Linked DNA regions of Homo sapiens. The protein of the gene in region 3 purifies or fractionates together with the protein of the main gene of each other region. This does not show direct contact. Each region holds a gene or a part of one and is shown on either strand. Other genes may lie near its edges. The genes, in order: RBFOX3, ALG1, SLC2A5, COQ8B, SLC25A17, SMIM8 and FADS3.

Evidence for each region.
Region 1: the proteins of SLC2A5 (region 3) and RBFOX3 purify together in Homo sapiens (affinity purification with mass spectrometry; 2 studies listed by BioGRID and IntAct, with this or other methods). This does not show direct contact.
Region 2: the proteins of SLC2A5 (region 3) and ALG1 purify together in Homo sapiens (affinity purification with mass spectrometry; one large-scale study listed by BioGRID and IntAct). This does not show direct contact.
Region 4: the proteins of SLC2A5 (region 3) and COQ8B purify together in Homo sapiens (affinity purification with mass spectrometry; one large-scale study listed by BioGRID and IntAct). This does not show direct contact.
Region 5: the proteins of SLC2A5 (region 3) and SLC25A17 purify together in Homo sapiens (affinity purification with mass spectrometry; one large-scale study listed by BioGRID and IntAct). This does not show direct contact.
Region 6: the proteins of SLC2A5 (region 3) and SMIM8 purify together in Homo sapiens (affinity purification with mass spectrometry; one large-scale study listed by BioGRID and IntAct). This does not show direct contact.
Region 7: the proteins of SLC2A5 (region 3) and FADS3 purify together in Homo sapiens (affinity purification with mass spectrometry; one large-scale study listed by BioGRID and IntAct). This does not show direct contact.

Annotation. Positions count from the first base shown.
Region 1 is NC_000017.11:79,608,252-79,612,460, forward strand, and holds the start of RBFOX3 (RNA binding protein fox-1 homolog 3), read right to left. Parts: upstream 2,801-4,209; 5' UTR 2,575-2,800; intron 911-2,574; exon of another isoform or gene 820-910; intron 363-819; exon of another isoform or gene 267-362; intron 1-266. UniProt on the Homo sapiens protein: Pre-mRNA alternative splicing regulator. Regulates alternative splicing of RBFOX2 to enhance the production of mRNA species that are targeted for nonsense-mediated decay (NMD).
Region 2 is NC_000016.10:5,074,711-5,078,490, reverse strand, and holds part of ALG1 (chitobiosyldiphosphodolichol beta-mannosyltransferase), read right to left. Parts: intron 3,104-3,780; coding exon 2,955-3,103; intron 1,047-2,954; coding exon 957-1,046; intron 585-956; coding exon 474-584; intron 1-473. UniProt on the Homo sapiens protein: Mannosyltransferase that operates in the biosynthetic pathway of dolichol-linked oligosaccharides, the glycan precursors employed in protein asparagine (N)-glycosylation.
Region 3 is NC_000001.11:9,041,920-9,045,699, forward strand, and holds part of SLC2A5 (solute carrier family 2, facilitated glucose transporter member 5), read right to left. Parts: intron 19-3,780; coding exon 1-18. UniProt on the Homo sapiens protein: Functions as a fructose transporter that has only low activity with other monosaccharides. Can mediate the uptake of 2-deoxyglucose, but with low efficiency. Essential for fructose uptake in the small intestine.
Region 4 is NC_000019.10:40,713,911-40,718,217, forward strand, and holds the start of COQ8B (atypical kinase COQ8B, mitochondrial), read right to left. Parts: upstream 2,977-4,307; 5' UTR 2,677-2,976; intron 1,210-2,676; exon of another isoform or gene 1,143-1,209; intron 726-1,142; 5' UTR 723-725; coding exon 621-722; intron 488-620; coding exon 368-487; intron 224-367; coding exon 157-223; intron 1-156. Other genes in the region: ITPKC (inositol-trisphosphate 3-kinase C), read left to right, coding at 3,226-4,307.
Region 5 is NC_000022.11:40,816,460-40,820,858, forward strand, and holds the start of SLC25A17 (peroxisomal membrane protein PMP34), read right to left. Parts: upstream 2,888-4,399; 5' UTR 2,790-2,887; coding exon 2,736-2,789; intron 919-2,735; exon of another isoform or gene 744-918; intron 1-743.
Region 6 is NC_000006.12:87,339,339-87,342,860, reverse strand, and holds the end of SMIM8 (small integral membrane protein 8), read right to left. Parts: intron 2,746-3,522; coding exon 2,587-2,745; 3' UTR 1,636-2,586; coding exon of another isoform or gene 1,540-1,635; 3' UTR 532-1,539; downstream 1-531.
Region 7 is NC_000011.10:61,881,505-61,885,284, forward strand, and holds part of FADS3 (fatty acid desaturase 3), read right to left. Parts: intron 1-3,780. UniProt on the Homo sapiens protein: Mammals have different sphingoid bases that differ in their length and/or pattern of desaturation and hydroxyl groups.

The DNA.
Region 1 (4,209 bases), on a different chromosome or scaffold from region 3:
CTCCCAGCCCCGCTGTGGCTCCCAACCGAGGTCACTGGGTGCGGAGCATTTGCCGCAAAGGCCCATCCGAGTAAGGGGCGGAGCCTAGGGACTTCCCTGGACTCCTGGCTCCTCCTGGCACCCAGAGGCGACCCGAGGTCCCCGGGGTGGGCACGGGTCTCTCTAGGCCCCAGGCCCCTGAGGAAGGTGGATCAAAGCAATCACCCAGGTTCCCTTTTTTCTTTGGGGGGAGGAGGGTGGATAGCTGCTAGAAATGGACAACTCACCCCAGAAAACCCCGGCCGTGCAAGCGCAAACAGCCCAGCACCAGTGGCAACCCCTGCCGCACGCACGCAGCCACCTCGCCAGGCCCAGGCTGTCTCGGCTTGGGTGCGTCCCTTCAACCGTGCTTCTTGCTCCTTAACCCCTTCAGTGGTCCCCACGTCACCCGCTCTGTCTCCCTCCTGGGGACAGCCTTGCCCTCCCAGAAGCTGTCAGCCAGGAAATGAAGGGTTAAGCGTTGCTTCCAGGAGTGTGCGGTGAGCGGTGAGCGAGGCGCCCACGCAGGAAGGCCTCCAGTCCTGGGGGAGGGGCGGGGGGGCCAGCCTCGGTCCTCGGCCAAAGGGAGCTCCTCGCCCGCAGGAGGCGGAGAAGGAAGGCGCGCCGGGATGGTTCTAAGAAGGCTCCCCTCCTCCGCCCCCGCCATGCCGCCCCCACGCCCCCACCCCGCCGGCGCTCAGTGACCTGGGGCGCCCCTGCAAGAGGCCCATACCCGGCTTTCATCAGGCAGCGCCTTCTCGACAACTTTTCTCCCTCTCTCCCCTCACAATTTTTGCTCACCTGGAGGGTCGGTTTTTAATTAGTGTAATATCCCCGTGAACAACGCAGCCTAATTAAGACATCCGTCCCGAATCCGCGATGCACACTTAATGAGCAGGTTCTGCCGCAATGTTTATACTTTTTTTTTCCATTATGTTTTGCAGACCAGTAAAACCGAAGCCGGCTTCCGGCTGAAAGACCTCATTACGGGCGACCCCACTCCATTAGCCTCCTACCTGCTCCACGCTAAGTGCCCGGGGCGCCCGGGTGCATGCCCAAGGCGTCCCCGAGTCCAACCTGCGTTTGGAGCAGGAAATTAGCAACCTGCGCGCCCGAGAAGCGACTTCACCACCAGCTGGGGCAGGAAGGGGGACTTAAACCCAGGGATGGATCCCTTGGGTCTCTGTCCTTAGCCTCCACCGTGGGGTGTCTCGCGCGTCGGGACTAGCGGCTCCGCGGGACTCCTTTTTAAAAGTGATCATTAAATAAATCAGGTACCTCGCCAAAGCTGGAACGGAAAGGGGAGGGGGAGGCAGCTCTGTTGTCCAGGAGTTTCTCCCCACCTCGCTGGGCCCCCGCCCCCACCAGTGGACTCCGGGAACATCCCACCCCCACCCTACGTGATACCAGGGATCCCAGGGCCGCTTGGGGACCCGACAGGTTCCCAATGCCCCTCCACGCGGGGCGCCGCGTCTCGGTCCCCGCACCGACACTGCAGGGCTGCGCGCCAGGGGAGGCTCCGCGTCCCGGGGAGGGAGGCTGCGACCCCCAGCACCAAAATGACCACTGGCCTCGCGCCACCCCGAGACGCCACAGAAGACCACCTTCCCGAGCGTGCGAGCCCAACACGCCCCGGGCGAGCCCCACCACCGCCCGGGGCCACCAGGGCAGAAAGTTTGGGCCAGGGGCGTGCCCGGCTTTCCCAGCCCGGCCGCGCTGCTCGAGGCCCTGGGGGTGGCCGAGGCTTCAGAGAGGCAGCCTCTGCTCCCGTTCCAGCCTTCCTATCGTGCTTGGGGACTCGGCCCGGAGCGCCCCCAGCCCGCCCCCTGTAGGGCCCTGCGCGCCGCTCGCCCCTCGCTGCTCGGCCCCCGCGCACACCGCGGTGCTGCGGGCCCCGCTCCTATTTGGGGAGCTGTGGCAGCCCCTTCCTCCCCACAACTCCTTTGGGTCATCAACCTCTCAGCGACCCTCCTTTCAGAGGACCCCGGCAGGGCTCTCTCCGGGCCTGGGTGCCGCGACAGACGCACGTTGCACCACCGCCGGGTCGCCAGCCTCTCTCCCACCCGCGCGGGCTCCGGCTGCCTGCTCGGACGCGCCCCGCGGGGCCGGGATCTCCGCGCGCCTCTGCCTCCCCCCGCCGGGGAGTTCCCCGCGCCGGGCATTGTGCCGCCGCCGCCGCCGCCACAGCCACCACCACCGCCACCGCCACCGCCACTGCCACCGCCACGCAGCGCGCGGGACTCCCTGGCGTCTCCATGGAGCCCGACCCCCGGGCCTTCCCATTCACAAAATCGCCCCTCTGGCCCACGGCCGGACAGAGCGTCCAGACCCCAGCCCCGGAGGGACCCAGGGACCCCGACCCCGCGCAGGGACCCCTGACCCCGAGGGCGCCACCCCACCCCACGCGCCCTCGGGTCAGCCCCGGCCGCGCTCAGCAGCCCGCCTCCCACTGCGGGGTCCCATGCGCCCCTCCGCGGCCATGTCCCCCTCCCCCAGCTCAGCCCGATGGGAATGACCGCCGCAGAGCGAGGCGGGCGACGAGGCCAGGCTACTCACGGGCTCAGCGCTCCCCGCGGCAGGTGACTGGGGGCCGGCGGCCATGCCCCGGCTGCATCCCGGCCGCCGAGCGGGCAGCGGCGTCCTGGGGCCGCACAGGCACCGGCGAGCCAGCGGCAAGGGGCGCGCGAGGCCGGGCTCGGGCGGCAGCTGTGGCAGCTGCTTCTCCTCCGACCACGCGAGCTGCTGGGGCCCGGCTGGGGCCGCTGTCCGAGGAGGTTCTGCTGGCTTCGGAGCAGCCCCGCGCTCGCTCTTCCCTCGCCTCCTCTCTCTCTCTCTCTCCTCCCTCCTCTCTCCGCCCTCCTTCTCTCTCTCTCTCTCTCTCTCTCTCTCTCTCTCTCTCTCTCTCCGCCCTCCTTCTCTCTCTCTCTCTCTCTCTCTCTCTCTCGTTCCTCTGGCTCGTTCGGCTGGAGCGAGGCGGCAGCAGGAGCACGCGGCGGCGGCGCGGGCGGCGGTGGCAGCTCGAGCGGAGCGCGCAGCGCGCGGCATGGGAGGGGGCTCTGGCTGTCGCGCGGCCGGGGAGGGCGGCGGAGCGGGGAGAGCCATGACCGGGTGGGCTTCGGCGGTCAGCACCCTGCAGCCTTCAGCGCCAACTCCTCGGGGCAGGGGCACAGAAGAGGTGGGGTACACACGGAAGATCCCAGAACCCAGTGCTGCCCTGGTCCCTTCAAGGGCAGCCCCAAGCCCGCTGCCCCTCCCCACCTCCAAGCTATCTTGGGGGCGGATCAACCCAGGTGACCCTTAACAGGACCCCTGCCCTTGTGCCTCGCTGTCCCTGGGGGCCATTTTTCTTTGCCAGGCCCAGGGATCCCCAGCAATGGGACGTGGTCACCAAGCATCAGGGACGAATGCCACCCCACCCCGCATGCCATGCCATGCCTTTGAGTTGCCCACATACCCCAAACCCCCTCACTAGGCCCAGGTGCCCTGACTTCCTGGAGGACCACTGGAAAGGAAGGGATCGGGCCCACTCCGTGCTGTTAGTCCAGATTGGCCAACCCAACCCATTTAAACATTTCCACCTGTGCCTGGCTGGAGAGGAAGGACTGTGGGAGGTCAGCTTAGGATTTCCCTAAAATCAAAAGATCAGGTAGCTCCTGTCCCCAGTCCCAGCCTCCCCCAGCATCTAGAGTAAGGGGCCTGGTGTGAGTTCTGGGAGGGTCTCTATCCTTGGTGCAGAGGGAGCAGGAGAGCAGAGGCTGAGGACACAGTGGAGTGGGGACCCTCTGGAAAGGCAGGAGAGATCTATTGCTGGGGTCAGCCCACCACTGGCACACAACACCAGAAGTGGGCAAGAAGGTCTGGACGGTCCCAAACAGGTTTAGGCAGGAGGCTGAGTAATCATTTCCAAAACAAAAGACATTCTGGTGCAGCAACCAGGCTGGAGAAACGAGCCTGCACCATCGAAGGACATTTCCAAATTACACACAAACAGATCCAAACCCGTCCCCATGTCACTTTTGCTCCTGAAGGCTGCTCCTGGAACAATTAGCCTCCTCCTCGCACCTGACTGTCCTGCTTTTCTGTGTGAGGTGAAAAGCACATCATGGAATCTGGGGTTTGGTAGGGGCCTGGAAGACCCAGAGGCCAGGAAGAGGGGAGTATGGATTTGGAGCTTCTCGGTAGTAGGGGCTC
Region 2 (3,780 bases), on a different chromosome or scaffold from region 3:
TGAGGGTGCAGGGACGCCCTCCCACACCACCCCAGCTTACCCAGGGCACACCTCAGGGTGCGTAGACCTGCACAAAGGTCCCCTCCTTAGCCCCATGAGACACCCCAGGGGACACACAGGTCCACAGATCCTGCCACAGGCCTGGGAAGCCACTGGCAGGAGAGTAAGACAGCGCAGGGGTCCACAAACATTTCTTAAAGGGCCAGAGAGTAAATACTTCAGGCTTTGCGGGCCACAGGTTCTCTGTTGCAAAACGCGATTCTGCTATTGCAGCTCAAAGGCGGCTGTAGACAACTCAGAAGGCAATGAGTGTGTTGTGTCCCAGTGAAACTTGATTTACAAAAGCAGCAGACTGGCCTGTAGCCTTAGTTTGCCAACCCCTGGATGAGTGGGTTCCCAGGTCTGCAGTGAGAAGGGGAGAGGCCAGGGCAGTGGCGAGCAGGAGAGAAGGCAGCTGAGGATGGGAGGCCTACCGGGCCCTGAACGGAGAGTGCATGCTGCCCAGCTTCATGAAGAGCCGGTGCTGCAGGTCCAGAGGTGTCTCTTTAAAGAAAGATGCGGGCTTGTCGTAGACGGTCACAGCCCTGCAATGAAATCATGACGGGGCTATTGGGAGGGCTGAAGAAAGGCCTCAGGAACAGAGGACTCAGAGGCTCCAGGAAAAGAAGGACGCTTGGGGAATCCAAGTCTCAGATGATGACAAGAAGAAGCCTTGCAATTACTTGGGAATGCACAGAGAGACGTCCTAGGACCAAAACTGCCTGGACCCCCTGGCTGGCTAAGAAAGAAACTCTGCCCCCTCCTCCCCCAGCTTCCCCAAACCAAAGACCACCTCCCAGGCCCTCAGTATTTCAAATTGCCCCTCAGCAGGACGGCAGCAGGCAAGGCAGCTCTCACTGCAGCCAATCAGGGGCCCCGCGCCTCTCCCAGGCCGCCGTCATCCCAGGCCATGGTACCTGATGTGCCAGTTATCCGCCAGGTCTTCTCGCATAGCATTGGTAACACACAGGTTCAGGTGGGACAGGCGCCCAAAGAACTTCTCGTACCTGAAAAGAGAGATCAGCAGTCAGCAGAGCCCTAGACAGGCCTCCGCTACCACCACAGCGTGACTCGACATCCCTCAACAGAGAAAAGGCCGCAGAGCTGGGAGAGTTTGAGCTCCCTGAGCCCCAGCTGTGCCAGTGTTCTTTCTTTATGCTGTATATACCCTCCTTTATGTTGTGTCACTTGTTGGCTTAAATACAATCACTTTAAAAGGAAACTGCACTCCAGCCTGGGCAACAAAGCAAGACTCCGTCTCAAATAAATAAATAAATAAATACAAATTTAAAAAAATAAATAGAAGGACACTGTGTATCACTGCCAAAGTGAACATCCTCTCTCTTGCTGTAAAAGGAAGAAATACAGGCCAGGCGCGGTGGCTCATGCCTGTAATCCCAGCACTTTGGGAGGTGGATCGTTTGAGGTCAGGAGTTCGAGACCAGCCTGGCCAACGTGGTGAAACCCTGTCTCTACTAAAAACACAAAAATTAGCCAGGCGTGGTGGTGGGTGCCTATAATCCCAGCTACTCAGGAGGCTGAGGCAGGAGAATTGCTTGAACCCAGAAGGCGGAGGCTGCAGTGAGCCGAGATGGCGCCATTGCACTCCAGTCTGGGACATAGAGTGAGACTGTCTCAAAAAAAAAAAAAAAAAAAAAAGGAAGAAATACAATGAAGGCCTCACTAGCGATCTCAGCCACCCTGTGCTACCACTGCAAAGGCTGTAAGGTCACGGCTTGCTCTCAACGTGGGGCAAAGGGATTCAGTGAGCATTGTACACATTCTCTCCTAACGGAGACTGAGCCCTGATCGCAGGGTAGAGCCGGAACACGGCATGCGCGATTCTGGGTTATTTATCACCGCCAGGGTATCATCGCCTGTTCCTCTCAAGATGCAGAGAAAGCTCGGAAATGGGCTTGCCTGGGATATTTTGGTCCTCACACTTAGCTGTGTGGCAAGAGGCATAATCGTTCTCAGCCTCAGTTTCCTGACTTGTAAAAGGTACACCCTCCTGAGGTGCATAGAGATTGAACAGGGTAAAATACAAAAAGGGCTTGGATGGAGGACTGGCATGCAGCAGGTGCTCACCATTGACCATTCTGCTCCATTTGCTCAACTAAGCTGTTTGCTGCTGCTGTCACCACTGCCAGTGAACAAACTATCAGGGCGAAGGCCACAGCCAGCCAATGGCCCAAGGCCGGAAGTACACGCAGCAGCTGGACATGCACACGGAGGCTGGATGTGCACCTGAAGGCTGGCCGTGCAGAGTATAACAGAGATGTTATAGTTGGGCTCAGAGGACAGCAGATGACCTTCCCAGCTCCACGTCCCACTGCTACCACTGGCCCTTCTTCCCTCCCTGTCACATCAGCTGCAGCAACTGTGGCCCACTTCTCCAGCTACCAACAGCAGCCCTGGGTTTTAATTTGGGGATCTGCCCTCACCCACCCTCTGTCCATGAGATATGGATGCTCCTGAGACCCAGCTCTTCTGCTGGAGCACTTGCCCCCTGGCCTCAACAGGCAGATCAGAGGAAGGCAGGTAACCTACATGAGCCAATCAGAAAGGGCTGCCCTCCCCAATGAGCCTACGTGAGGACAAGAGCTAGGAGAGTTCCGGGAACCACCACCAGAAGGGAGTGTGGAGACAGACGTGAGCTGGGTCCCAGTGACACTGCTGAGCTCGAAACCAACCATTTCCACAGACACTTCCATTTCATGGGCCAAAAAATGTGGTCCTTTGCTGAGGCCTGTTTCTATCATTTGGAACCAGCATTCGGCCTGATTCACCAGCCTCACCCCACCTCCTGCAGAGCCCACAAGGAACCGACTTCCGGAGGCCCACTATGGCCCTTCTTCTCACTCATCCTTGAGTGGTTTAGGGGACGGTATTTTACCCTCTTCCTAGACTCTCACCACTTGGCCAGCAGAACGAGGGGATGGTTGGGGCCATGCACCAGACCCATGATGGAGTAGCCATAGTTGTGCCAGTCAATGACGAGCTTGCTTCCACAAAGGCAGCCCACGAACCAGCAGACAGCAATGCTAGGCAGACCTGGGGGGTTCTAGGAAAGATAGAGACTTGAAGGGGAGGAAACCCAGACCATGCTAGGCAATAAACCCAGTAAAAATAGTCACAACACACATGGTGATGAGTCTGTTATCTTTACAGAGCTCTTGATAATAAGCAGAAGAAAGACCCTCTCCACCACCAAAATAGATGTAAAAAGTCATAAAAGAAACAGAATGGGCCAGGTGCGGTGGCTGATGCCTGTAATCCCAACACTTTGGGAGGCCAAGGCAGGAGGATCATTTGAGCCCAGGAGTTCAAGGCCGGCCTAGGAAACACAGTGAGACCTCATCTCTACAAAAAATTTAAAAATTAGCCAGGTGTGGTGGGACACACCTGCAGCCCCAGCTACTCAGGAGGCTGAGGAGGTAGGATCACTTGAGCCCAGGAGGATGAGGCTGCAGTTAAGCTATGATTGTGCCACTGCACTCCAGCCTGGGCGACAGAGCTAGACTCTGCCTCTAAAACAAACAAACAAAAACCAAACAAACAAACAGAACCAACCTGAAAAGTCCAAGATCATCAATAATCAAGGAGGCAAAAAACAGAACAAAGAGATGGCATTTTTCACCTGTTGGAATGCAAATTCTAAAAAGGTCTAACAACAGCTGGTGATGGTAAGCATGGGGGAGAAGAGGTACCCCCACTCAGCGGGGGCCAAACTGACCCAAC
Region 3 (3,780 bases):
CCACGTTGGAAGATACACCTGGGAGGAGGTGAAATAGAAACACCATCAGAAAAAATTAGTCTGGCAGGGACAAGCTGTCTTCAAGTATACTATTCTTAGCAATAACATTATTTGGGCCAGAACTCTCTCAAAACTGCAAAGGAGAAAGCAAACACCTCTTTTAATTCTTAGCCCTTTATACTTTAAGGAAAGAGAAACAGATCAAAGGAGCTCATGCACAGGGGCCCTTGCTTTGGCCCATATCATCTGGGGACACTGGCCAGCTGGATCTACGGCCTTCCCGCTCCCTGGCCTGAGTCTAGACCCACTCACGTTTCTGCTTTTTGAGGAGGGTCTGTTTCATAAAAGGCAAGGCAGCTGGGTGTGATGGCTCGTGCCTGTAATTTCAGCACTTGGGGAGGCTAAGTGGGGAGGATAGATTACTTGGGGTCAGGAGTTTGAGACCAGCCTGGGCAACATAGTGGAACCGTTTCCACTAAAAATATGTATATGTGTGTGTGTGTGTGCGCGCGCATGATATATATGGCCTGTGTGTATTTACATATGGTGTGTATGTCTGTGTGTGTATGGCCTCTGTGTGTGTGTGTGTATGTGTATATGGACATGGCCTGGTGTGTGTGTGTGTGTGTATATATATATGGCATGTGTGTGTACATATATATATATATGGCCTCTGTGTGTGTGTGTGTGTGTATGTGTATATATATGTGTGTGTGTGGGTGTGTGTGTGGCCTGGGTGTGTGTGTGTGTGTGTATAGGGCATGTGTATGTGTATGTATATATATGGCATGTGTGTATGTGTGTGTATGTGTGTATGGCCCAGGACCCCTAGCCCCCAGCTTTACCTTATAGGAACAGTAAATAAACCAATGCAGAGATAGTTTCATACACCTTTAAGAACAAGTTATATGTCTCTATAAGCATTTAAAATGTCAACACATATTACGGAATATCTGCATTTCTGGGATTTCTGTAATGCCTGGACTACTTCTGAATCCCCAGTATTTAAACTTGTAAATATTCCCATCATACTTGAATCTGGTGGAGGGAAAACTTACTCTATTTTATAGAATGACGTGTTGCCTGATGTCAATTAAAAAAACATAGGCAGAATTTAATTTTGCAGCTTCCAAAGTATTTTCACATATATTGCCCTATTTAATTCTCCTAAAAGCACATCCAGAGGCTGGGGATGGAGAGGAAGTTTCACTAGTCCAAGTATCAGGTACCAAATCCTGAGTCAAATGGAGGCTCAGGGACGTGGGTCTCTGAAGGGAGGCTCTCAGGAACAGAGTTTGGAGTGAGCAGAGGTTGGAGCTGCTGTTGATGGCGGGGTATTTGATAGAACTGAGATAGGAGGGTACCTGAGGCCATGTTTTCCTGTTTGGCAATTCTACCCACAGATGTCTCTGCTCAGTATTTGAAAAGAGACATCACAGTTCATTAATATCGATTCTTCCTCATTTGCAGAGCAAAGAGGGGCAGTCTTTAAAGCAGCTCTTAGCATGTCTAGGTGGGAAGAGGGAGCAACACCTCACAGGCCCAGGGCAAAGGGCTGCAGAGGAAAGGAAGGCCTCCTGGGAGCTGAAGTGGGAGGCTGTGTCCTCACCACTTAACAAGAGCCACTTAGCAGCAAGAGCATCTTGGTGAAGGATATTAATAAAGGGTCAAACCTCAGGAGGTTTGTGAAGAGATGGGGTTACCTGTACGTTGGTGGAAAGCAATCTCTATTTTTGTCTTTAAAATGACTCCACTAGGACCTCCCAGCCAGCCAGTTCTGATACGAGAATCAGAGCAAAGTGGCTTTTTTTTTTTTTCGAGATGCGAGTTTCGCTCTTGTCGCCCAGGCTGGAGTGCAGTGGTGCGATCTCAGCTCACTGCAACCTCTGCCTCCCAGGTTCAAGTGATTCTCCTGCCTCAGCCTCCTGAGTAGCTGGGATTACAGGCGCCCGCCACCACGCCTGGCTAATTTTTGTATTTTTAGTAGAGACGGGGTTTCACCATGTTGGCAAGGCTGGTCCTGAACTCCCGACCTCAGGTGATCCACCCGCCTCGGCCTCCCAAAGTGCTGGGATTACAGGCATGAGCCACCGTGCCTGGCCTGGCTTTTGAAGTTTAAATTCCTCCTGCTGGACACTGTAGCTCACCCCTGTAATCCCAGCATTTTGGGAGGCTGAGGCAGGTGGATCACTTGAGGCCAGGAGTTCGAGACCAGCCTAGCCAACATGGTGAAACCCCATCTCTATGAAAAATACAAAAAAATTAGCTGGGCACGGTGGCACATGCCTACAGTGCTAGCTACTCAGGAGGCTGAGGCACAAGAATTGCTTGAACTTAGCAGGTGGAGCTTGCAGTGAGCCGAGACCGTGCCACTGCACTCCAGCCTGGGCAACTAAGCAAGAGTCCATCTCAAACAAACAAACAAACAAACAAAAAGTTTAAATTCCTCTGAGCCAATGAATACCTTCAGTCTTCCTGCCAAGAAGTTGATTAGTAACAAATCAGTGAACTGTGAGCATGTTCCAGTAAAAGTCATACTCATCTTGGCACCCCCCTTGTCAAGGTAGTTGTTTACTTCATTTTAGAGTGAGCAATGTGGTTCTTGTTCATATGGGTGGTTTTATTTTTGTGTTGGTTTGTTTGTTTTGTTTTTGAGACAGAGTTTCACTCTGTTGCCCAGGCTGGAGTACAGTGGCACGATCTCGGCTCACTGCAACCTCCCCATCCTGGGTTCAAGCGATTCTCATGCCTCAGCCTCCCTAGTAGCTGGGATTACAGACCTACTCCACCATGCCCAGCTAATTTTTGTATTTTTAGTAGAGACCGAGTTTCACCATGTTGGCCAGGCTGGTCTCGCACTCCTGACCTCAAGTGATCCAACTGCCTCAGCTTCCTAAAGTGCTGGTATTACAGGCATGAGCCACTGCACCCGGCCATATGCGTGGTTTTAAAATGAGTGTCTAAGCAGCACACAGCTTGATGATCCACTTTGCTGACTTGCTGGAGGTATGTGAAAAACTGTTGGCAAATGGATTATGCCCCTAATGGCCAGTGTTCTCAAGCCGTGATCTGAGGACCCAGGGATCCCGAGACCTTTTAAGGGTGTCTGTGAGATCAAAACTATTTTCATAATAATCCAGAGATGATATCTGCTCTTCATTCTCTCTCTCTCATGAGCATATGGGAGTTTTCCAGAGACTTCTTGCCAGGCCACATCACAACTGACCTGACCCAGAAGTACATCTGAGAATTCAGCTGTCTTCTATTAAGCCAGACATTAAAGAGATTTGCAAAAATGTCAAACAAGGCCACTCTTCATGTAATAGGCTTATTTTAAAAAATGAATTAATATGTCTCTCGGTTGCCATTTCTAATACAGTAAATATTGATCAATGTAACCCACATGAGCAAAAGCTCTTTGGAGCCCTCAATAATTTTAAGTGTGTAAAGGGGTCTGAGACCAAAAACTGAGAACTGCTGACTTTAGAGTAAAGGCTGGGATTTTTAACTGATTTGTTATCTATTGGAGCCTAATATTTCTCTGCTGGAAACAATTCTGTATTGTTAATGGTCAATAGAAAAGTGATTGGACCTGCTTACTGGTGGCAACTTTTAGGAATGTATTTTTCAAAATGTTGAGCCCACTGCAGAGAAAACCCACAGGTCAGGGCAAGATGGCAGAGACCGGCCGGGCATGGTGGCTCACGCCTGTAATCCCAGCATTTCGGGAGGCTGAGGTCAGGAGTTTGAGACTAGCTTGGCCAACATAGTGAAACCCCA
Region 4 (4,307 bases), on a different chromosome or scaffold from region 3:
CTTGATTTCTCTTGGCCTTGCAGGCCCTTGCCTTTGTCTCTCTTTTTTTGTCTCTCTCTCTTTCCTGTCTCTGATTCATCCTCTCCCTTGCTTCAATCTGTAAATGTTGCCCTTTCTAATTGAGGTCACACCAAGATCCCCCAAAGTCACACCTACCCCCAAAGTTGGCCAAGCGGCTGATGCGGGAGGCAGGCACCTTGCGTTCTCGAGAGCGGTCACTCAGCTGGGAAATGGGGACAAGGTCTGAGGGTGGGAAAGTGGGCATCGTGGCCAGAGAGTGCAGCCACTCTGCCACCACACCCTTCCCCAAGCTCAGGGGGCCAGCAGTATTCGTGGGGTGTTGCTGGGTGGGTGGGGGTAATGATACCTGGGGCCGGGGTGTCTTCCTGGGACGGGCCTCCCGTGCCCTGCGAATGTCCTCCTCACCCAGGCCTCTCCCAGGCCCATCCTGGTAAAACTTTTGGGCCCAAGAACCTCCACATGGTCCCTGCAAGAGATATACTTTGATAAGGAGGGGAGGACATGGGATCACCTGGCCCTTCTGGACCCCTCCTGTCCTTTTACCCTCTGAAGTCTCCCTCAGCCTCTTCCCCTTGGGGACCTGCTCCCTAGCCTCTTACCCAGCGGTGGGGCCCAGGCCCCAGGGCCCCACAAGGCCAACCAACAGTCTGGCCCAGCTGTCCACCGGTCCCCCGAAGTAGGCCCCCCACCTTCAGCCACATTGCCTGGAGGAGAAGAGGAGGGATTATTCAGGTGGGAGTTGCCTGGCTTCTTGGCCAGGCCCCCATGTTCCTCTGTGTCCACCCTCTCTCATTCCCACCCACTAAATACTTCCTCCACTATTAATAGATTCCCACAGTTTCTCCTGGTTCTCCCCTGGTTGCTAGGAACCCTTAGCTCTTCCTGCAGGCCTCCCAAAACCCACTTTCCCCCCTCTCCCAACCCTCGCCGTTGCTAGGGTCCGCCCCCGTTACTAGACACCCACAGTTCCTCAGGGGCTACCTCTCCACTTCTCTGAAACCCCCCTCGTTGCTATGCACCGCCTTCCCCTCTGTTGGCCCTGTAGGCACCCGCAATTCCTCCGGTGTCCCCCCGCCCGATCCCCACCCCGTTACTGAGCACCTCCCCCCGTTGCTAAGCACCCACTGCTCTCAGCCTCCGAGTCCGCAACCTGCTGGGGCCCTCCTGTGCTTCCGGGAGCCTCTGTATGCCCGCCCCCTTCGGCCAGCCAACCAATGGCGCGGCAGCAACTCGCTGACTGGCACGGAGTTTCTCCATCTGTGCGCGGGGGAAGGGGCCAGAGAGAGGCCCTAGCGATGGAGCCTGGAATTAAGGTGGGCATCGGGGGCCCATCTGGGGGGATTGCTGAGGCATCGCGGGAGCGCAAGCGTGCCCTGTCTGCCCTTCCACTCACCTCAAAGTGCCTTGTACGCGACAGACCCTTCTGTTCCCTACACTTTCTTGCAAAGTCTCCCTTACAAACCTGACGCCTCTCTTCTGCACGAATATCTTGCCAACCCCCCTTCTTATTTTTACCCCTGGCAGGCTCAACACAATTCCTTTGAATACACATTCTTCCCAGCAAACATTTCCCTTGCACATGGAGCCCCTCCACTTTGCACAAACACCCACATTCTGGCACCCAACCTCCTTCCTTGTGCATATAAATCCCTTGCCTTGCTTGCCAACTGTTTCCCGCTCACGCCTTCAACTCTCTCGTGTACATACCCTCCCCCCCACTTGCACACTGAGTCTCTGTTCCCTCACACACCCTGTTCTCTCCGCTCCCCGCCCACCTGCGGAATGGTGCGACTGGGAGCCCTCTGCTTCCTGTAGGCCTGACATTTCCCAGAACACACTCAGCCAAGATTCCCAGTGCTGAGTCAGGAACCTTGGCATCCCAGAAAACCACCTCCCATCCTATCTTTCTTTCTCTGTGTGTGTGTGTGTGTGTGTGTGTGCGCGCGCGCGTTGGAAAGCCTGCTCTCCCCACAACAGGCTGACTCACCCACTTCTCACAGTCTGGAATAGAGGCATCTGGTTGGGGCATCTTTCCCACCACTGGGAGAGGGAGGGATGCCGATGCTTCCCCCACAGAACCCCGCTGCCCCAACCCCTCTTGTCGGGAATCAGGCCTCTTTGTCTCTATTCCCGTACTGTGTGACCTCAGAAAAGCCCTCATCCCTCTCTGGACTTCTCCTTCCCAACCTGTATGAGGTACTAGGTGGGCTCCTGCCTTCGATTTCTCTCATTGGTCTGTGAAAAGGTGACTCATTTTAGAGCCTTGGACCTGTGCCCAATGTCTCCCCCAGTTGACTCAATTTCAAGACAAACCACCTCCTCTCCCCCTTCAGAGGTGAACGGCTGACTCAGGAGCTGGGTGGCAGCTCAGCCTTGGGGGCAAAATATATCAAAATCACCTAGGACAATAAATAATCCTACTGGGCTACAACTGACAGTGCCAGGCCCGGGGCCACATGCTTCACATACATGAGATCATGTCAGATAGCCCCGTAGCTGCAAGCAAAGGGTAGAGGCCGGCAGATCTCTGAGCCTCTGTTCTCACGTGTAAAATGGAGCCCTGGCATCCCTATTGTTCAGCCTTGGAGAATGAACTGAAATCGTGTCAGGGTCTGATACAGAACAAGTACTCTATACATGACAGAGATTTCTTACGGAAAATCCAATGGAGCGTAAGTCATTTGCTCAGGGTAGCGGAGCTGGGAACTGGCAGAGGAAGGTCTCGAACCCACACCCGTGGGAACTCCAAGTCTTTGAAAGTCCGTCCCGCCCCTGCGTGAAGAATGGGCGCGCGGCTGGACTCGTCACCGGGGGTTTTAGGGAAGGTTGAACTTGTCATTCAACCGTGTAGGGAGGGTGGTTTAGTCACAGGGGTGGAGGGAGGGGGCCCACTGGCGCGCCACCAGGACCCCGGTGCCCTAGATGCATACCTGGCCGCGCTTCGGATGCTCAGAGGCAAACCCCCTCCCCTTGGGAGGCGGAGTCGGACAAGGCTCCGTCTCGTTCCGTTCCGTCACGTCCGGTGGGGCGGGGCTTCGGGGCTTTCCCCTTTGAGGGGAGTATCGGTTAACCCTTGCGCGGCGGGGCGGGCTGGAGCTCCGCGGGCCGGAACCCGGGAGTCGGGGCTCCCCAGCCACACCCCTCGCGGGATTTAAAGGGATAGGAGGGGCCGGGTCGGCCGAAGCCCGAACCGAAGGAGCGGGCATGAGGCGCTGCCCGTGCCGTGGGAGCCTGAACGAGGCGGAGGCCGGGGCGCTGCCCGCGGCGGCCCGCATGGGACTGGAGGCGCCGCGAGGAGGGCGGCGGCGGCAGCCGGGACAGCAGCGACCTGGGCCCGGCGCAGGGGCCCCGGCGGGGCGGCCGGAGGGGGGCGGGCCCTGGGCCCGGACAGAGGGGTCCAGCCTCCACAGCGAGCCTGAGAGGGCCGGCCTCGGGCCTGCGCCGGGGACAGAGAGTCCGCAGGCAGAATTCTGGACAGACGGACAGACTGAGCCCGCGGCAGCTGGCCTTGGAGTAGAGACCGAGAGGCCCAAGCAAAAGACGGAGCCAGACAGGTCCAGCCTCCGGACGCATCTAGAATGGAGCTGGTCAGAGCTGGAGACGACTTGTCTTTGGACGGAGACCGGGACAGATGGCCTTTGGACTGATCCGCACAGGTCCGACCTCCAGTTTCAGCCCGAGGAGGCCAGCCCCTGGACACAGCCAGGGGTTCATGGGCCCTGGACAGAGCTGGAAACGCATGGGTCACAGACTCAGCCAGAGAGGGTCAAGTCCTGGGCTGATAACCTCTGGACCCACCAGAACAGTTCCAGCCTCCAGACTCACCCAGAAGGAGCCTGTCCCTCAAAAGAGCCAAGTGCTGATGGCTCCTGGAAAGAATTGTATACTGATGGCTCCAGGACACAACAGGATATTGAAGGTCCCTGGACAGAGCCATATACTGATGGCTCCCAGAAAAAACAGGATACTGAAGCAGCCAGGAAACAGCCTGGCACTGGTGGTTTCCAAATACAACAGGATACTGATGGCTCCTGGACACAACCTAGCACTGACGGTTCCCAGACAGCACCTGGGACAGACTGCCTCTTGGGAGAGCCTGAGGATGGCCCATTAGAGGAACCAGAGCCTGGAGAATTGCTGACTCACCTGTACTCTCACCTGAAGTGTAGCCCCCTGTGCCCTGTGCCCCGCCTCATCATTACCCCTGAGACCCCTGAGCCTGAGGCCCAGCCAGTGGGACCCCCCTCCCGGGTTGAGGGGGGCAGCGGCGGCTTCTCCTCTGCCTC
Region 5 (4,399 bases), on a different chromosome or scaffold from region 3:
TTGGGTAGCTGTGACAACGGTACACAAAGCCTAAAATATTTCCCATCTGCTCTCTTTAAAAAGTTTGCCAATCTCTATGTTCTTTTATAGCACTTAACTGTATCTAAAATTATTCTACTTATTTTTTATTTATTCATTTATTTTTTATTGTTTTTTTTTTTTTTTCTTGAGACGGAGTCTTGCTCTTGTCACCCAGGCTGGAGTGCAATGGCACAATTTTGGCTCACTGCAACCTCTGCCTCCCAGGTTCAAGTGATTCTCCTGCTTCAGCCTCCCGAGTAGCTGGGATTACAGGCGCCCACCACCATGCCTGGCTACTTTTTGTATTTTTAGTAGAGACGGGGTTTCACCATGTTAGCCAGGCTGGCCTCGAACTCCTGACCTCAGGCGATCCGCCTGCCTCAGCCTCCCAAAGTGCTGGGATTACAGGCGTGAGCCACCGCACCCAGCCTATTCATTTATTGTCTGACTCCCCTATTGCAATGCATAGTTCATGAAGAAAAAGACCTTCTCTACTGTACTCCTTGCACCTAGAACAGCGTGTGGCACATAGAATGCACTCAATAAAGGTGTTTAATGAACATTTATTGCAAGAAGGAAGAGAAAAACATTTCCCATCTTCTCACTTTCTTCTCTTAGATGCACTCCAACTATTTCCCCCACCACTCCACCAAAACTGGTCTTTTCAATTAACCACTGGATTTATCAACATGATAAATTCTCAGTTATTTCTCAGTCCTCACCTTACTTGACCCATCAGCAGCATCTGACCCAGCTGGTCTACTTCCTTCCCCAGAAACACTTTCTTCACGTGGCTTTCACTCTTAGTTCTTAGCTTCCCTCCTGCAGTACTGATCCATCCTTCGTTTGTCTCCTTTGCTGGTGCAATCTTATTTTCTCGGCCTCTTAATGGTTAGCCTGCTCCAAGACTCAGTCATTGAGATTCTTCTGTCAGTCCATACACACTTCCCTAGTGAGCTCATCTAGTCTCACGACTACTCTTAGGCATTTCAAACTCCTCCAAAACCAAAGCCAAATTTATCATTTCCCCCAAAACCTTCTCCTTCACAGCCTCTGCCATCCCAGTAAATACCACCATCCCTCCAGTTACTGAAGCCAAAAACTCTTGGAGTCAACCAACCCTCATTTTATAAATATATTCCAGGTCAATGATCACTTCTACCATGTCTGCTACCACCCGGATCCAAGTCACCATCATCTCTCGCCTGATAATTGCTTGTCCCCTGTTCCCTTACATTCTACTCTCAACACAGCAGCCAGGGTGATCACGTTTAAAGGTAAATCAGCAAGTTCAACAGCTAGCCAGAGTGAAAGTCTCACACAATTTGGCCCCCTGAAACCTATTTGCCTCTTTGTTCCCTCCACTCCGGAAACACAGGCCTCCATGCCCATCTTAAAGCAAGTCACGCAAGCGTCCATCTCAGCCTTCATGCTGGCTGAAAGGCTCTTCTGGCTGAACTGAATGAACCAGGCTTCCTGAATTAGGCATTTTCATGAAATGCTGTGTCACTTAATTCTCTAAACTCTGTGAGGTAGGTATCACTTCCCCCACTTTACAGATTAAGAAAGTAAGGTTTACAGGGCATCTAGCTAACAAATGATGGAGTTAGGGTTAAATCCAGATTAGTCTACAGAGAAGGTGAGCTCTCAGTGAAGTTTCTGGAGGCTAAACAGAGGATTCAGTGATGTTCCTCTGAAGTCACAGTGATTTTAACAGCTAAAGGTGTGTGCTAACAACTGGTGAAGAATATGAGAAAAGGCAGTCAAAGAGATAAAAGAACCACAAGAGGAGTCACCCAAGCCAAAAGTGGAAAGTTTTAAGGAAAAGAGGGGAGAGGGGAAGTGTCAAGTGGAACCTAGACACCAGAAGCCCAAGAATCAAGCGTATACCTCATAACAAACCACACTTGTGGTAGACAGGAACCCAGATCTTGATTTAGAAAGAAAGAAAAAAAAGCCAGGCACAGTGGCTCATGCCAGCAGTTTAGGACGCCAAATCGAGAGGATCGTTTGAGGCCAGGAATTCGAGACCAGCCTGGGCAACACTGCCAGACCCCAAAAATTTTTTTTAAAAATGTAGCCGGGTGTGGTGGCTCACACCTGCAGTCCCAGCTACTCAGGAAGCTGAGGTGGGCGGATCGCTGGAGCCCGGGAGATCGAGGCTGCAGTGAGTCGTGATCGCGCCACTGCACTCCAGCTTGGGCAACAGAGCAAGACCCTGTCCGGAAAAAAAAAAAAAAAAAAAAGGATCTATCTTCTCCTGCCAATAACGGTGCCCAGAGCTATCCTACTAGGTATTGCCACTTGCCCGCGGCAAGCGTGAAGACAGGCTGTAGGGAAGCATGTGACTAAGCAACACGGCTTCACACCTACGTTCTCCTCCGGGCCAGTAAAGCAAAGTGTGTGAGTGTGCGGTGGTAGCCTGACCTTAAACTTCCCACGGCAAAGATGCGGACCCTGAGCGGGCACGTGTGAACACGGCTCTCTACCCCGCAGTCTCTAGGAGACCAGGAGGTGGCGGAGTCTCGGCCCTTACCCCGAATTCCTCCAACAACTTTCCGCCAATGGCCCATTCCTCTCTGCCCCACAGTCATGACAGTGGACCCCAACCCACACTACCTCCCTCTCAGACCCATCCCTCAGGCATATCCCGGGACTGGCCCCCGAGAAGCCTTATAACCCGTTGCGGCCCGGGCGTAAAGACCCCGTCTCACCACGGCTCCGGCCACGGCGTGGACCAGGCTTTCGTAGGACAGCACGGAAGCCATTGGTGCGGCTCCTCGAAGACCCAGCCACACTTTTCCCACAGATGCCGCAGCCAGTGGAGTTAGGAAAGGAGCACCGGAGCTCAGGGTGTGAGAGTCGCAATCCCCGCCCTCTCAAACCCGCCCGCCTGCCCTAGAACCACTTCCGGGTCGCGGGGCGGGAAAGCGGGGGGGGGGGGGCGGCTAAGAACGCCCCTGAACGCTGATTGGCCCCTGTGGGCGCGGGGCGGGACAGCGAGGTGTTCGCGGGGCTGGGCTCCAAGGCGCAAGGCGGCCTGACACCAGGTACCCGGCTCCCGGTTCCTCCGACGTTCTCTGGCGTTCCCGGGCCCTGACCAGTTCCTCCATCTCAGAAGTCTTAATGGCCTTCTTTTACTCTGGTGACAAAGATGGGGAAACTCAATGAGACTCCAGTCTCCCTGTTTCTCTGCGCCTGAGCTCTTTTCTATTCTGAAAGTCACATTTTGGCCAAGAGGAAAAAAACTCACTTGTGGACTTGGAAACTTCTTCCTCCAGAAAAACCCTTGAGTGTGGTGGGAAGAGATGTTGAGCATCAGGAGCCCAAAATACAAGACGCGAGTGGGAGCCTCCCCCTAGTTGGCAACTATGGAAGTCATTTAACCTCTTGGGTTTCCTCTGTGAAATGACAATGTACTAGTACCAACAATCCCCATCTGCTGTGAGGATTACGAAAGCCAATTTATGTAGTAGTACTTCATAAAATACTGAAGGAAAAAAATTTTTTTCCATGTTGCAAAGTGACTAACAAAATTACACAAAACTAAAGCAGCCACATTCAGCTTTAACCTGTCATACTGTGAGATTCTGCTTCAGGATGCTCCTCAGGGACTCAGGGATTCTTTCCTGAGACACCATCACCACTTGTCTTTACCATGTTTCCTTTTAGAATATCCTCGTGATAACTCCTCAGTGCTGACTACATGCCAGGCTTAGTGTTTTATGCCCATCATCACACTTAATCCCTGGGAGAGGGGTCTAACAAAGTTTAACCTGGCCGTTTTCACAAAATTTGCAGAAGATACTGCTTCCAGGAACATTCCCATCACGCCATAGAATCATGACGTGAAAGTGAAGGACCAAAAGTGAAGCGAAGATGATTTTGGGCTGGGCGCAGCGGCTCAGGCCTGTAATCCTAGCACTTTGGGAGGCCGTAGCGGGCAGATCACTTGAGGTCAGAAGTTTGAGACAAGCCTGGCCCATATGGCAAAACCCTGTCTCTATTAAAAATAGAAAAAATTAGCCGGACATGGTGGCACGCGCCTTGTAGAAATTACAATGTTGAAACTGCAGCTACTAGGGAGGCTGAGGCAGGAGAATCGCTTGAACCCAGGAAGCAAAGGTTGCAGTGAGCCAAGATTGCACCACTGCACTCTAGCCTGGGACAGAGTGAGACTCCTAAAAAAAAAAAAAAAAAGATTATTTTGGCATGGGAACATAGAAACTAGTTGGCTGTAAAACTTGAGAACTCAGTTCTCATTGACTCCTGATCAAATTGGGAGCTTGCTGTCAAGAATATACTGGATTATGCATCATAGTTATGAAAACATTGTTAATACTTTGTTTTGACGTTTTTGTATCTTACATACCAAAAA
Region 6 (3,522 bases), on a different chromosome or scaffold from region 3:
TAATCTGTTCTGTCAGGTACCTTGCCCATTCTCAACCAGATTCCTGCATTGAAAGACCCTTCTTTAATCACTTGAACTCAGACTTCCAAAAGACTTTAATATCTTCCCCTGACCATCCCATTCTTAAATACAGCTAACTTTGTAAAAGTGGTATTTCCCTTTAGTGCAGTAGATTTAATAAGCTTAGTTTTGTTTGATCATCAGGTTGTTCTGATGGTCTTGTGAGGGAGCTGGCAGTTAACAGTCCTTTACATAATTCTGTTTTAAAGTACAGGAGTGTTTCTCTACTTAAGATCTAAACTTCTTATTTTTAAGGGCTAATGTGGCTGCTTTATTATTATGTGCACATTTACACATAGAAGGTGGTATAGTATGGTGAAAAGATCCCTAGACTTTAGAGCAAGAAGATACAGGTTCTACTCCTGACTGAGAATCTCCCTGATCTTTGGTAAATCTCTTAGCCATTCTCAGCCTATTGTCTTAACCATAAACTGACAGGATTGGATCAGGTGAAGTTCAATGTTCAGAATCTTTGGACTATTTGAAAGGTATTTTATTTTTGATGGTTATACCCTCATTCAACAAAGAAAGGATGAAAACATCAACACATAGGCAGGCAGCTGTTGACACTCAGCACACACAAAGACTGTCCTACAACTTGTAGTCACTCTGTAAAAAGTATCATAGTCAGGTACTTGTTCCTAAAATTCAGTATGATTCTTTCCACACACTACTTTTCACAGCTTTGTGCTTGACTGACTCTAGTTACTTTGGTTCATTCACATAGATCTTACATGACTCAAGTCTGCACCTTGTACAGTTTCTGTTGCCCTCCTGCACTGCAATCTCTTGACAGTTCACGCAACTAATAACTCCTCTGCCACCAAACATCAGCTTATTCTGTTGAATAGTAAAAAATTCTAAAAGATGGCAATGTGTCATTAAATGCATAAGTTAAAAACAGAAGAACCCTAGTTTTGTGATAGCCAAAATACACAGGGAAAACAAAAACAAAAGAGTCTTTAAAAGGGATTTTGTATCACTGAAGTGCATTTTAAACTATATGAAGTACATTATACAGACAGGCATAGCAAATACATATTTGGGGCTCAGTAGTAAAGATTTTATTTAGTTTCATGTAAATTCAATTAGCTAAGTTCTTTAATACCTACAAATCACACATAATTACATTTTCATGTACCTTACAAAACCATAATAAAGTATGACAAATTAAAAATAACATTATGATAAACTCTGCCTGTGCTGTTATTATTACTTGGTAATATTAATAGCGACTGAAGCAAGACTTCAGAGGTAAGATTTACTACTGAGGCCCAATGACAATGATTTGGAGAATTAGGTATATATCTAGAAATGAAACGGGTCCAGAACCCTTGTAAGAAAGATTTGAATTCTATAAGGCAGAATCTGGCCAGACACAGGGGCCTAGCCTTGACCTCTGTCCTAGGCCCCTGGGCCAGGTGCCAGGACAACCAAGGCCATTCTGCTTCTCACCTCCAGTGGGTACTGACCGTAGGGCTAGGCTTTGTTTACACTCATTTTTACCCCCATTTCTGTCCCCACTTCCATAAAAGACACTTCAAAATGCTGATGCTTCAGAGAATAAGAAACATTCTGAAAAGGAAAAAAACAAAAAGGCCTGCTGGCATATAAACTTCAAAAGAAAAAAAAGGTACAATAAGGAGACCTTATCTATTCCTTATCCATTGAGTAGTTGTAGTTTTTAAATAACTATAAGAACACTTGGTCTTATGTTTATAACATTACAGTAACATTAATTAACACAAATTAACATAAACAAAATTAATTAACATTAATTAACATAAACACTAAAATAGATAACATTTAGTTGTAGTCAAAATCATCATACCTCAGTAAAACATACTTTTTTTTTTTTTTTAAAGAAAAACTCCAATTACTCTGGGATATTCTTAATCCTTATTTTAGTAGCTGAGTGGAAGGATCTTTTCCATTAAAATAAAATTCTGTCCCAAAAATAGCTAAAATGGAAACTGAAATATATGAACCATTTGTGACACTATAAAAACTACTTGTCAGAGCCAACTCAGTTTCTCATATCTCATATTTTTAATATTGACTTCAGGCCTTAAAATTTCTATTTATCTTTCTTTAAAAATATAGGTTCTATGCCAGGGAGAACATGAACATTTCCTTTGCAAGTAGCAAAACACAAGTAAACTTTCACGACAGCTGCACCGGCATAATTCATCTTAAAATATTTAAAACATCATGCAAATTTAACAGCATGGGTACTTTTATTATACAGAATTTAATAATTAACAAAAACAACTTCCATTCTCATGGCACTTTTATAAGAGGTAAGGAAAGAAAAATATTATGACGCTCACTCTGTGGAAAAAGAATGAGATAATGGCTGCAGCTGTGAAAGGACAAAATTTACGACAGTTGTCTGGTTGCAACTGCTATCTTCTCTCTTCATTAGCATGTTCTAGAACAAGAAACATGATACTGTACACTCACAAGGTCTTTCATTTGAAGATTTCAGAACCTTTAATAAAGGTCCATCTGCACTAACCAGCACTACTAATCCCATTTGGATGTTTTCCGCCTCATATAACTGTGCCCCTCACTATCAATAGCTTCATAGAGGTCCTTTTTATTCTCTTGTATTGCATGTAGATAACCAATATATGCCACGCAAAGTGAAAGAGTTACCAATCCGAAAGCCATTACAGGTTTGTTCTGTCAAAGAAAAAAAAATTATAAAGCTTTAGTAAGACTAACAATTTGAGGAGACCCAAATATCGGTTGCACTTTCCTCCTGACATGCCACATCTTTATTACAACACTAGCATTACCATGGCAATATTTCAATTAAAATCATTTATTCAGTTCTTTATTCAATTAGCTAAGCTACTGATTATCTAGAGATTATAGAAGACTCTTGCTTCTCCTCTCCAGGCTTTCTCCCATCTACACCCTGGACATCTCAGACCTCTACTCTCAGGAAGGTGACAGCTGGGAAAGGAGTGGGGCAGGAAAACTGGTCAGCACCCGGAGTTTTCAATGTTATCTGGGTGAAGTGGAGGAGCTGCTTAACTTCCTGGGTCCTGGGCCCAAGTCTCTCCATTTGCAAACTTCAAATTAGTTCATTTTATTAGGAAGTGAGGAATGAACTAGACATGCTATTCTTCTTGCCCAAGTCATGAATAACTGGCAAAAAACCTTTTATATAATAGGCACAGAAATGATGATGATGTATACACTCTTCTCTGGGAAACTACTCCATTACCTCAAGAAATTTAGTGATGGGAACAGCTATTATGCTGTTAACCTTGATTTACTCTTGGACAATCCAAGACCCTAAGAGGCAAAGTGATGCTTTCAGGTTAAAACACACACACACACACACACACACACAAACACACACACACACACACACACGCTGTGTTTTGTTGTTGTTAAGAGGTTAAGAGACAGGATTTCACACACACACACACACACACACACACACACACA
Region 7 (3,780 bases), on a different chromosome or scaffold from region 3:
CAGCTTATAGAACCAGTAGCTGGGTGGTGTTGTCCCCATGGGTCTGGAGAAGGGAGGCCTCCCAGTTGCTAAAGGAAACACCTTTGAAGAAAGCTGACTGAGGACAGGGGCCTCCTATTGTCCTCTTGCTAATGAGCCTACCAGCTGGTGAGTCTTAAAACGGAAGTGACAGCGGGCCCTGAAGTCACTGCCAGGACATTCTCCTACCACCCTGGGGGAAGAAAGCACTTCAGGCCCCTCCAGCACCCACTAAGAGGTAACACCTACATGATCTACTAGGGGTCCCCTTGCCTGCTTTTATAGGCCCAGGGCAGCTTGGGGACTGGGGGGCTGGTAGGGTGCCCCTTCTGGAATAACCTGGGCTGACTTGGCTCACTCATTACAGAGGAGGGGGCTGTATAAGTGCAGATCTCACCCCCTCTGGACATGAGTCTTGAAGGAGGGGCAGCAAAACTGGTAGAAAAAAGGGCAGAGGGAAGGCTGGGGGTCCCCAGGAAGCTGTCTGGGCCCCCAGCTACCTGCAGAGCTGGGGCTGGTGTACAGGGGAGCTGGGAGGGAAGAAGACTCTTGGGGTTCTACTGACCCCACTGGGTGTTTTTTTTTTTTTTTTTTTTTTTTTTTTTTGAGATAGGGTCTTGCTGTATCGCCCAGGCTAGAGTGCAGTGGTGCAATCATGGCTCACTGCAGCCTCAACCTCCCGGGCTCAGGTGATCCTCCCACCTTAGCCTCTCTCGTAGCTGTTAGTACAGGTGTGCACCACCATGCCCAGCTAATTTTTTATTTTTATTTTTTGTAGAGATGAGGTTTGCCATGTTGCCCAGCTGGTCTTAAACTCCTGGGCTCAAGCAATCCACCCACCTCAGCCTCCCAAAGTGCTGGAATTACAGGAATGAGCCACCACGCCCAGCCCAGAAAAACACTGAAAAATTTTTTTGAGACAGGGCCTCACTCTGTCACCAGGCTGGAGTGCAGTGATGCAATCACAGCTCACTGCAGCCTTGAAATCCTGGTCGTAAGTGATCCTCCCACCTCAGCCTCCCCAGCAGCTAGGACTACAGGCACATGCCACCATGTCTCATTAACTTTTGAATTTTTTTGTAGAGTCAAGGTCTCACTATGTTGCCTAGGCATGTCTTAAATGCCTGACTTCAAGCGATCCTCCCACCTCAGCCTCCCAAAGTGTTGAGAGTACAGGTGTGAGCCACACCTGGCCTCTAATTTTTTTATTTATCTTTTATTTTTTGAGACAGAGTCTTGCTCTGTCGCCCAGACTGGGTTGCAGTGGCATGATCTCGGCTTACTGCAACCTCCACCTCCCAGGTTCAAGAGATTCTTGTGCCTTAGCCTACTGAGTAGGTGGGATTAGAGGTGCAAGCCACCACACCAGGCTAATTTTTGTATATTTCGTAGAGTCGGGGTTTCACCATATTGCCCAGGCTGGTGTTGAACTCCTGAGCTCAAGCAATCCTCCCGCCTTGGCCTCCCAAAGTGTTGGGATTACAGGCATAAGCCACCACGCCCAGCCAATTTTTTAAAAATTGTAGTAAAATATACATGAAATTTACCATTGTAAGCATTTTTAGGTGTCCAGCTCAGTGGTATTAAGTGCATGCACAGTGTTGTCCAACCATCACCATCATCCAGCTCCAGAACCTTTTCACCTTCCCCAACTGAAACTCTGTCCCCATTAAACACTAATTCTCCATTCTCTCCTCCCCCTGCCCCGGCAACCACCATGCTACCTTCTGTCCATACAGATCTGCCTCCTCCGGAAACCTCATCTGGGAGAAATCACATGTTTGTTCCTTTGCCTCTGGCTTGTTTCACTCAGCACAATGTCCTTAAGGTCCATCCATGTTGCAGCACGTGTCAGGATGTCCTACCTTTTTAAGGCTGAGCCAGCGTGATGGTGAGTCCCTCTTTCTCCTTTGAAACTCCCCAGACACACACGCACATGCAGACACACCCACCAGCCCACACCAGCAGGCATCACTCAGACACTCAGAAACATGCCCACAATCACGGCCCACATGAACACTCAGCCAAACACAGCCTTGCACACATGGTACGCAAAGATGCAGCTGGCACGCACAGACACACCCGGCGCAACGTGCAAGCTGTGGCTGCGGCCCCAGAATCTCCTCCCTCCCAGCCCTTCCCTCTATCACCCCATGTCAGTTCTGGGGCCACCTTATTGAGCTGAGGATCTTGGGTCCAGATTGGTCTCCTCGCCTCCTTTCCCGTTGGTCCTGATTCACCCAGGCCAGCCCTGTCGAGGCACTGACAGGGGAGGACAGAACCAAGCCTGCCCCAGGGCCTTCAAGCCAGATCTACCCCTTGCAATGATAAGGGGAAGTGTGAGCCCCCTCAGGGCTGTGTCAGAGAACCCCAAAGCCATTGACAGGGCTCCAGCTGGGGAAGGGACAGGTGGGGCTGTGACAGTTCCCTGGGAAGCAGGCTGGGCTCTCAGAGCTGGGTGGGCACCCTGGGGCTGTGCTTCTCATGCTATCAGGGAGTGCGAGTAGGGCAGGGGCCTGGACTCAGGCCGAAACCTGGAAGCAAACAGCCTTCTCTGGAACTGGCTGAGGTCATGTGACCTGGTCCTCTGTGGGCCTCTCCTTAAGGATGGGGGTGCCAGGCAGAAGCTAAGACTCAGAGAGGTTAAGCTACTTCTTCAAGGTCACACAGTTCCATTTGACCGAGGTTAGATCAGAGTCCAGGTCTCTTCTCACTCATAAGTGAGAGTTGAACAATGAGAACACATGGACACAGGGAAGGGAACATCACACACCGGGGCTTACTGGGCGGGTGAGGGGCAAGGGGAGGGAGAGCATTAGGACAAATGCCTAATGTATATGGAGCTTAAAACCTAGATGAGGGGTTGACGGGTGCAGCAAACCACCATGGCACATGTATACCTATGTAACAAACCTGCACATTCTGCACGTTTCCCGGAACTTAAAGTGAAGAAAACAAAAACAAAAGCGAAAAACTGTGCTTGTCGCCACTCCTGGAACAGAGGGGAAGCAGCAGTTCTCCTAGGTGGTGTGCGGGGGTCCTTGCCGTGAGGCCAGTCACTATCTCAAGAAGCCAAGGGCCCAGCTGCTGGGAGCCTGGGCTGGGGGGCAGGAAGGCGGTTCTTGGACCTCATCAGTGGAGCCTCAGGGAACTGTGGGAGGTCCCACCCTCACACACCCTAAGTGCACCCAGGAACATCCACCCAGGGGTACGTGCACAAAGCCCTGTCCCCCCAACCCCCACACGCACCCAAGCGAGTGGAAAGCGGCACTCGACGTCTCTCATCGGGTACCGGAGCAGAGCTGGGTGAAAGTGCTGGAATCAAAACGGCACCCCTAAACACAAGCTCCTGGAGGTAGCGACAGGCTCTGTTCACAGTGGCATCCTCAGAGGCCGGCACAGAGCAGCTGCTCAACAGCAGGTATGAACAAGTAGACAAGAGCCAACCCTCCACAGCCCCCAAAGCAGGGGCACGAACCATTTTGCTGGTGAGGAAATGAAGGCTCAGCGGGAAGGGACACCTGCCCAGGTCCCAGTTAGTAGTGGCAGAGCTGGGATTCGAACCCGGGCCCATCTTCTGTGATGTTCATGCTCTCTCAGGATACAGAGACAGCTCAGCCTGGCCTTGGTCCCTGGAAGCCTAGAGTGGCTCAGTTGGCCCCAAGATCCCACGCCCTGCCCAAGCCCCACCGTGAATCCCACACAGCAGCTGGTCGGGGGGGTGTCCCAGAGCCAGCCTGCCCAGGATGGAACCTGAGCTGC